3 linked regions of the Homo sapiens genome follow. The protein of the gene in region 1 purifies or fractionates together with the protein of each later gene. This does not show direct contact. Each region holds a gene or a part of one and is shown on either strand. Other genes may lie near its edges. The genes, in order: DIRAS1, UNC13B and TBCE.

What was found.
Region 2: the proteins of DIRAS1 (region 1) and UNC13B purify together in Homo sapiens (affinity purification with mass spectrometry; one large-scale study listed by BioGRID and IntAct). This does not show direct contact.
Region 3: the proteins of DIRAS1 (region 1) and TBCE purify together in Homo sapiens (affinity purification with mass spectrometry; one large-scale study listed by BioGRID and IntAct). This does not show direct contact.

What each region holds. Positions count from the first base shown.
Region 1 is NC_000019.10:2,713,961-2,716,269, reverse strand, and holds the end of DIRAS1 (GTP-binding protein Di-Ras1), read left to right. Parts: 3' UTR 1-1,703; downstream 1,704-2,309. UniProt on the Homo sapiens protein: Displays low GTPase activity and exists predominantly in the GTP-bound form.
Region 2 is NC_000009.12:35,164,906-35,168,561, forward strand, and holds part of UNC13B (protein unc-13 homolog B), read left to right. Parts: intron 1-3,656. UniProt on the Homo sapiens protein: Plays a role in vesicle maturation during exocytosis as a target of the diacylglycerol second messenger pathway.
Region 3 is NC_000001.11:235,370,286-235,373,941, forward strand, and holds part of TBCE (tubulin-specific chaperone E), read left to right. Parts: intron 1-3,656. UniProt on the Homo sapiens protein: Tubulin-folding protein; involved in the second step of the tubulin folding pathway and in the regulation of tubulin heterodimer dissociation.

The sequences.
Region 1 (2,309 bases):
CCACCCACTTCCTCCCCACCACCTGTGCCCCAGAGAGCAGGGCCTGCCCGGGAAGGTGGCGTCCTGGAGTCGAGTGTACCTGCAGCCATGAGGTTCTGGGTGTTTTTTGAGAGAGTCTGAGTGACACCACACTCGTGTGACCCCACAGGGTTGTGTCCAACATACACGGAAGTGGCTATGGAATGGTGTATTTGTGCAACCTGGGGTGCGCGGATGGGTGACTTGTATCTAAGTGCATCTGCGTGTATACCTGTGTGTGTCTGTCTGGGATGATATGTTTTTGTGGCAGTCTGTGTGTGTAATAGTGGTGTAGGGTATACAGAGAGGTGGGTAGTTGTAGATACCTGTGTGTGGTTGTCAGCAAGACTGGATATGTGTGAGGTGTCTGTGTGAATCTTTGTGCCTGTATGAGCATGACTATATTTTGGGGAGTGGGTGATATGGTTTATCTGAGAGCATTTATCTGTAAATATGTTTGTCCTGATTGAGGGACACGATCTGTGTTCCACTCTATAGCAACATGACTCTAGCAATGTGACTTTCGGTTCCAAATCTGTATCAGTCAGCTACTGCTGTGTAACAAATGACCACAAATGTAGCAACCAGAAACAACACATGCTTATTATCTCATAGATTCTGTGGGTCAAGAGCCTGGGTGCAGGTTGGCTGGGTCCTCTACTTGGGATCTCAGGAGGCTGCAATCAAAGCATTCGCCAGGCAGAGGTCTCATCTGAAGGCCTGATCGGGGAAGGATTTGCTTCTTAGAAGCTCATGTGGTTGTTGCAGCATTCAGTTCCTTGCTGTTGCAAGACTGAAGGCCTCAGTTCCTCGCTGGCTGTTGGCTGGAAGCTGCCCTTTGTTCTGTACCATGTGGGTCTCTCCACAGCGGGGCTCGGAGCATGGCAGCTAAGTTAGTGAGGGAAGGTGAGATGGAGGTTTTGGTCTTATTGGGTGTGAGGAAGCAACGTGTGTGTGTGCGCACGCCCTTTTGTGCAGTGAGAGAGAGAGAGAGATTGCACACATGTGTCTCTGTAGTCATGTGGCCAGGTGGGACTATGTAGGTAACAGATTGCTCGTGTCTGATTTGGTACAAGCATGTTTGTTTTCCTCTGTGTTCGTGTGAGTGTTTACTCAACAAATGTTTATTGGACACACTCAGAGAGAGGGAGTGTGCACACGTGCGTGTGTGTTGCTATCCAGCACGTGGACCGGGCTCCCAGAAGAGCTGGCATTGTGTCTGAGCAGAGCTGGGTCCCCCCAAAACTTGGGCTGGCCCAGGGCCCACCAGCAGCTGATGTTGCCTCCTCTCCTGTCCTGGCAGTAGCTTCTGGGTTCTGAAGGTGCCGGAGAGAGTGAGGCTGGGCAGGGGTCTGCGGCCCTTTCTCAGGGACACACCCTGATAGCACAATCTCCTTGGGGCCCTGCCCACCTCCAGGCCTCTCCCACCTCAGGCCCTGCCCGACCCTGGGGAGAGAGGGCATCTGCAATAGGAGGGGACCCGAGCCTGTCCTGGCTGCTGGCCCATCCTGCCTGGGCATCCCTGGTGCTGGGGACTGTGCCAGGCCATGCTTGCTGTGACTCCGCCCCTGCCCCCTCTCCCCCCGCATGTGGGTGCCCCCACTCCCCCATCGTGGGGTCTGTGTAGCCTTCGCTCTAGACATAGTCTTCCTGCAATAAAAAAGTGGATCCTGCATTCCCCACCAGCATGGCGCCCTGTCTCTGTGGTGGGCGTGGGGTGTCAGCTCACCGCCTGTAAAGGATCAAGAAGGGTGGGGAGGTGCAGGATGGGGTGAAGGGTGAAGGAGGTGATGGGTGTAGGAAGTGAGGGATGGGATGAAGGGTGGAGGAGGTGATGGGTGTAGGAAGTGAGGGATGGGATGAAGGGTGGAGGAGGTGATGGGTGTAGGAAGTGAGGGATGGGATGAAGGGTGGAGGAGGTGGTGGGTGGAGGAAGTGAGGGATGGGGTGAAGGGTTGAGAAGGTGGTGGGTGTAGGAAGTGAGGGATGGGATGAAGGGTGGAGGAGGTGACGGGTGTAGGAAGTGAGGGATGGGGTGAAGGGTGGAGGAGGTGGTGGGTGTAGGAAGTGAGGGATGGGATGAAGGGTGGAGGAAGTGGTGGGTGTAGGAAGTGAGGGATGGTGTGAAGGGTGGAGGAGGTGATGGGTGTAGGAAGTGAGGGATGGGGTGAAGGGTGGAGGAGGTGGTGGGTGGAGGAAGTGAGGGATGGGATGAAGGGTGGAGGAGGTGATGGGTGTAGGAAGTGAGGGATGGGATGAAGGGTGGAGGAGGTGGTGGGTGTAGGAAGTGA
Region 2 (3,656 bases), on another chromosome or scaffold:
CTGCAACTGGTCTTGTATTGTGGTGCTTATGGTGACCCAGACAAAGGAAGTAATTGCACTGGTCAGATCAGATCTGGAATTTTGTGTTCAGCTGTGGTATTTCCTTCTAAGAAGCATATTGAGAAGCTAGGTTATCTTAAGAGGGGAGTGATTAGAATAATGAAACATGTAGGAACCGAACCATTTGAAGAATATGGGAAATTTAGTTGTAGAAGATTTAAGAGGAAGAGGATCACGATAGTACATGAAGACTGTTTAAAAAACTGTCTTGTAGAAGTTATGTCACCTTTTTTGTTGTCATTCCAGAGGACAGAACTGGGACAAGTGTGGATCAGTGGTTGAAAATGACAGGAAATTAGATTTTAGCTTAACATAAAGAAGAACAGTTGGGTTGTTCAGAACAAATGGAATGGGCTATGTAGATTTTTTGACACTAAACAGAAATTGAATGAGTGGTAAGGATTCTAAAGGGGATATTGACCATTCAGCGGGTGATTGACTTGAATTTTTTTTTTTTTTTTTTTTTAATTTTTTGAGATGGAGTCTCTGTTGCCCAGGCTGGAGTGCAGTGGCATGATCTCAGCTCACTGCAACTTCTGCCTCCCAGGTTCAAGCGATTCTCCTGCCTTAGCCTCTGGGGTAGCTGGGATTACAGGCGCCTGCCACCATGCCTGGCTAATTTTTTGTATTTTTAGTAGAGACGGGGTTTCACCATGTTGGCCAGGCTGGTCTCAAACTCCTGACCTCGTGATCTGCCCACCTCGGCCTCCCAAAGTGCTGGGATTACAGGCGTGAGCCACTGCGCCCGGCCTAGACTTGAATTTTTAAGAAACCACTCTTTTATAGAATTCACTTAGTCTTTCTTTAAATATTTCCATAAGTATAAAGAAATATAAGTCTTTAACATGTTTTGGCACAGCTTTACTTATAATACGGATACTTTTTTTGGGCTTCCATAGGGACCAGTGCCACATGAACAACTGCAGTAAACTAAATTAAGGATTTTGTTTGACTTTTATTGTCTTGGTATTCACGACCAAGTTTCTCCAAGCAATTATAAGCATTTTTAGAATCAGACCTTTCCATAATATTTCTCTGTAATTCCCAGTGTTTATAACATAGTTATTCCCAGTGTTTATAACATAGTTAGATAATTTAACTATGGATTTTTTTCCCCCAAAAGTAATAAATGCAGGCCAGTCGTGGTGGCTCTTGCCTGTAATCCCAGCACTTTGGAAGGCTGAGACAGGTGGATCACTTGAGGACATGAGTTTGAGACCAGCCTGGCCAACGTGGTGAAACCCCATCTCTACTAAAAATACAAAAATTAGCCAGGTGTGGTGGTGCTCACCTGTAATCCTAGCTACTTGGGAGGCTGAGGCATGAGAATTGCTTGAACCCAGGAGGCAAGGTTGCAGTGAGCCAAGATCATGCCACTGTACTCCAGCTTGGGTGACGAAGTGAGACCCTGTCTCAAAAAAAATATGTGTATGGTAATACATTGCTAATTATAGAAAATTTAAAAAATGCAGAAAAGTACAAAAAAAGAAAAAAATTTCCATGGGCCTACCACCTGCCAATACCATTGCTAACTTTTTTTTTAAATTTAATTTTTTTTTTAAAGATGGGATCTCACTATGTTGCCTAGGCTGGATTTGAACTCCTGGGCTCAAGTGACTGTCTTTTCTCAGCATCACGAGTAGCTGGGACTACAAGGAACACACCACCACACCCAACTATTGTTAACTTTTTAATTCATTGTTTTCATTTTGTTTTTATTATAAGGTGATAAATATACAGATAAGAAGTTGAAACAGTTTAGAGTGTAAAGTAGAAGGAAAAGTTCTCTTGTCCCCATTCGGTATTCTTACTTCCCAGAGGTAACTACTGTTTACTGTCTCTTACCTATCCTTCTGGAAATTTTCATTGCAGATGAGTATATAGGTTCTGCAGTTGAATGTACATAGCATTCTTCAGCTTTTTTTGTTTTTTAACCTCAATGATCTATTTTCCTGTCAGGTCATCTGAGTCTAAACCAAGCTTGTCCAGCCTGTGGCATGTGAGCTGCATGTGGCCCAAGACGGCTTTGAATGTGGCCCAACACAAATTTGTAAACTTTCTTAAAACATTATGAGATTTGTCAGCTATCATTAGTGTTAGTGTATTTTTTTTATTTTATTTTTATTTTTTGAGACAGTCTCGCTGTGTCGCCCAGGCTGGAGTGCAGTGGCGCGATCTCAGCTCACTGCAACCCCTGCCTCCTGGGTTCAAGCGATTCTCCTGTCAGCCTCCCAAGTAGCTGGGATTACAGGCGCCCATCACCACGCCTGGCTAATTTTTTGTATTTTTAGTAGAGACAGGGTTTCACCTTGTTAGCCAGGATGGTCTCGATCACCTTACTTCATGATCCGCCTGCCTTGGCCTTGCAAAGTGCTGAGATTACAGGCATGAGCGCCTGGCCAGTGTTAATGTATTTTATGCATGGCCCGAGATAATTCTTCTTCCACTGTGGCCCAGGGTAGCCAAAAGGTTGGACACCCTGGTCTATACCATTCTTTTGAATGGCTGCAGAGTATTCTGTTATATAAGCATACATAATTTAAACAGTTTTATATTGATGATATTCAGGATATTTTTCTTTTCACTATTACAAACAGTGCTACAATGAACATCTTTGTAGGTTTTTTTTTTTTTTTTTTTGAGATGGAGTCTCACACTGTTGCTCAGGCTGGAGTGCAGTGGCGCCCTCTCTGCTCACTGCAACCTCTGCCTCCTGGGTTCAAGCAATTATCCTGCCTCAGCCTCTTGAGTAGCTGGGATTACAGGTGCCTGCCACCATGCCTGGCTAATTTTTTTTTTTTTTTTTTTTTGTATTTTTAGTAGAGAAGGGGGTTTCACTATGTTGGCCAGGCTGGTGTTGAACTCCTGACCTTGTGATCTGCCCTCCTCGGCCCCCCAGAGTGCTGGGATTACAGGCGTGAGCCACCACGTCCAGCCTGTAGATGGTTTTTAAACATTTGTTTTTATTTTTGAGACAGGGTCTTGCATTGTCACCCAGGCTGGAGTGCAGTAGTACGATCGTGGCTCACTGCATCCTCAAACTCCTGGGCTCAATCTGTCCTCCCATCTCAGTCTCCTGAGTAGCTGGGACTACAAGTGCATGCCACCATGCCTGACTAATTTTTCTACTTTTTGTAGGATGGAATTGCCCTATTTTGCCCAGGCTGGTCTTGAACTTCTGGACTCAAGTGATCTGCCCACCTTGGCCTCCCAAAATGCTAGGATTACAGGTGTGAGCCACTGCACCTGACCAGTTTTTTTATTATTAATTTTTTTCTTTCCAACTTTTAAGTTCAAGGGGTACATATGCAGGTTTGTTACATGGGTAAATTGCATATTGCCATATTGCAGGGGTTTCATATACAGATAATTTTGTCACCCAGGTAATCAGCATAATACCCAAATAGGTAGTTTTCAGTCCTTACCCTCCTCCCACTCCATAGATGGTTTTTGTTATATGTTTGGAGATCTCCAATTAGCTTTCCACCTGGACTTTATGTGTAATTTTCTCATTGCTGTTTTCTTTGGCATATAATTATACTCAGTTGGACCAAATGCCTCGGTGTCTCAGATCAACATCCTCAATTAGAGGCAGA
Region 3 (3,656 bases), on another chromosome or scaffold:
CTCTGTTGCCCAGGCTGGAGTGCAGTGGTACGTTCTCGGCTCACTGCAACCTCTGCCTCCTGGGTTCAAGCAATTCTCTGCCTCAGCCTCCCAACTAGCTGTGATTACAGGCGCATGCCACCATGCCTGGCTAATTTTTGTATTTTTAGTAGAGATGGGGTTTCACCATCTTGGCCAGGTTGGTCTTGAACTGCTGACCTTGTGATTCACCCGCCTCAGCCTCCCAAAGTGCTGGGATTACAGGCGTGAGCCACTGCACCCGGCATTTTTTTTTTTTTTTTGGGAAGATCTCTTATTGTACTTCCCTGTAAAATCCATTACTGTTTTATTCCAATTGCCTAAAATAGTATCTGGCTTTTAGCAGACACTCCATAATATAATTGTTGATTGAATGAATTTGGGGTTTTTGCACCATCTTCTACACTTCATATTTTTATGCTTTTTTCCTCCTTGTCTTTTCTTTTTTTTTTTTTTGAGATGGAGTCTTGCTCTGTCGCTCAGGCTGGAGTGCAATTGTGTGATGTCGGCTCACTGCAACCTCCGCCTCCCGGGTTCAAGCGATTCTCCTGCCTCAGTCTCCTGAGTAGCTGGGATTACAGGCGCACGCCACCACGCCCAGCTCTTTTTTGTATTTTTAGTAGAAATGGGGTTTCACCATGTTGGTCAGGTTGGTCTTGAACTCCTGACCTCATGATCCGCCCGCCTCAGCTTCCCAAAGTGCTGGGATTACAGGTGTGAGCTATCACGCCTGGCTTTTTTTTTTTTTTTTTTTTTTTTTTTTTTTTTTGAGACAGAGTGGTTGCTCTTGCTGCCCAGGCTAGAGTGCAATTGCATGATCTTGGCTCACCGCAACCTCCGCCTCCTGGCTTCAAGCAATTCTGCCACCTCAGCCTCCTCAGTAGCTGGGATTACAGGCATGCGCCACCATACCTGACTAATTTTGTATTTTTAGTAGAGATGGGGTTTCTCCATGTTGGTCAGGCTGGTCTTGAACTTCTGACCTCAAATGATCCACCTGCCTCAGCCTCTCAAACTGCTGGGATTACAGGCGTGAGCCACCGCCCCCGGCCACTCTTGTCTTTTTTTTTTTCCCTTTTTTTTTTTTTTTGAGACAGGGTCTCCCTCTGTCACCCAGGCTGTAGTGCACTGACACGATCTTGGCTCACTGCAAGCTCTACCTCCCGGGTTCAAGTGATTCTCCCACCTCAGCCTCTGAGTAGCTGGGATTATACGCGTGTGCCACCATAGCCTGGCTAATTTTTGTATTTTTATTAGAGATGGGGTTTCATCATATTGGTTAGGCTTGTCTCAAACTCCCAACCTCAGTTGATCCACCCACCTCTGCCTCCCAAAGTGTTAGGATTACAGGCGTGAGCTACAGCACCCGGCCCCACCTTTTTTTCTGAGACAGAGTTTTGCTCTTGTCACCCAGGCTGGAGTGCAATGGCACGATCTCGGCTCACTACAACCTCCACTTCCCGGATTCAAGTGATTCTCCTGCCTCAGCCTCCCAAGTAGCTGGGATTACAGGGACCCGCCAGCATACCCAGCTAATTTTTGTTTTTTTAGTAGAGGTGGGGGTTTCACCATGTTGGCCGGGCTGGTCTCGAACTCCTGACCTCAGGTGATCTGCCTGCCTTGGCCTCCCGAAGTGCTGGGATTACAGGCATGAGCCACTGTGCCTGCCCTTTTTTTCATTTTTTCATTTTTTTGTACAATAGGGTCTCCCTCTGTTGCCCAGGCTGGAGTACAGTGGTGTGATCAGGGCTCACTGCAGCCTCGAACTCCTGGGCTCAGGTCATCCTCCAACCTAAGCCTCCCAAATACATTGGCCTATAGGCGTGCACCACCACACCCAGCTGATTTTTATATTTTAATTTTTAATTTTGCTGTGCATATTTAGCTGGGATTACAGACGCACTCCACCTCGCCAGGCTAATTTTTGTATTTTTAGTTGCAACGGGATTTCACCATAGTGGCAAGGCTGCTCTGGAACTCCTGACTTCAGATGATCCTCCTGCCTTGGCCTCCCAAAGTGTTGGGATTACAGGCGTGAGCCACCGCTCCTGGCTGGCTTTGTAGAACCTTAAACATATTTATCTATCTTAAGAATTTTTCCCAAGGAAATACTTCATAAGGTAATATTTTAAAAATCAAAGCTGTTTTTAGCTGTTTTCTTTGGAGTTGTAAATAAACAGCATTAGAGAAATGATTGGCTGGGTGCAGTGGTTCACACCTATAATCCTAGCACTTTGGAAGGCTGAGACGGGAGAATCTCTTGAGGCCAGCAGTTTGAGACCAACCTGGGCAGCATAGAGAGATCCCTTCTCTACCAATAGAAAAGAGAGAGAGAGAGAGGCTGGGCACGGTGGCTCACGTCTGTAATTCCAGCACTTTGGGAGGCCGAGGCGGGCGGATCTCGAGGTCAGGAGATCGAGACCATCCTGGCTAACATGGTGAAACCACGTCTCTACTAAAAATACAAAAAATTAGCCGGGCGTGGTGGTGGGTGCCTGTAGTCCCAGCTACTGGGGAGGCTGAGGCAGGAGAATGGCGTGAACCCGGGAGGCGGAGCTTGCAGTGAGCTGAGATTGCACCACTGCACTCCAGCCTGGGCGACAGAGTGAGACTCCGTCTAAAAAAAAAAAAAAAAAAAAAAAGAGAGAAATTATTAAGTAAATTGTGGTATCATACTTGGATATTGAGATGATTAATGTGTTGACTCTGTGGCTGTATAGAAAAATGTTTATGGACAAATGTTAATATGGCCAGTTGAGGTAGCTCAAACCTGTAATCCCAGCACTTTGGGAATCCTCAGGAGGATTGCTTGAGCCCAGGAGTTAAAGACCAGCCTGGATAACATAGTGAGGCCCTACTTTATTTTAAAGGAAGTTAATAAAAGAAGTAGAACAAATTATATGTCTCAGTGGTAGTAAAATTCTGCTTACATGTTAATGAAAATTTTGAAAGGGCACTTAAAACTAGTAAAAAACTCATTTTTAGGGTAATACAATTGTAGTAAAATTTAAACATTTAAATTTTATGATCGGAAGATGGTAGTAAATCAGAAATGGCTTTGGAATTTCTTTCATTGCAACCTTAATAGTAAGCAACAGTCTTTCCCATGAAAGGGACAGAAAAAAAAGAATGTAACGTCTACATTTTTTTTTTTCTTTGAGACGCAGTCTCACTCTGTGGCCCAGTCTGGAGTGCAATGGCACGATCTTGGCTCACTGCAACCTCCGCCTCCAGGGTTCAAGCAATTCTTGTGCCTCAGTCTCCCAAGTAGGTGGGATTACAGGCACTCACCACCATGCCCGGCTAATTTTTGTATTTTTATTTTTATTTATTTTTATTTTTATTTTATTTTATTTTATTTTTGAGACGGAGTCTCGCTCTGTCGCCCAGGCTGAAGTGCGGTGGCGCGATCTCGGCTCACTGCAAGCTCCGCCTCCCGGGTTCACGCCATTCTCCTGCCTCAGCCTCCCGAGTAGCTGGGACTACAAGCGCCCGCCACCACGCCTGGCTAATTTTTTTGTATTTTTAGTAGAGACGGTGTTTCACCGTGTTAGCCAGGATGGTCTCGATCTCCTGACCTCGTGATCCTCCCGCCTCGGCCTCCCAAAGTGCTGGGATTACAGACGTGAGCCACCGCA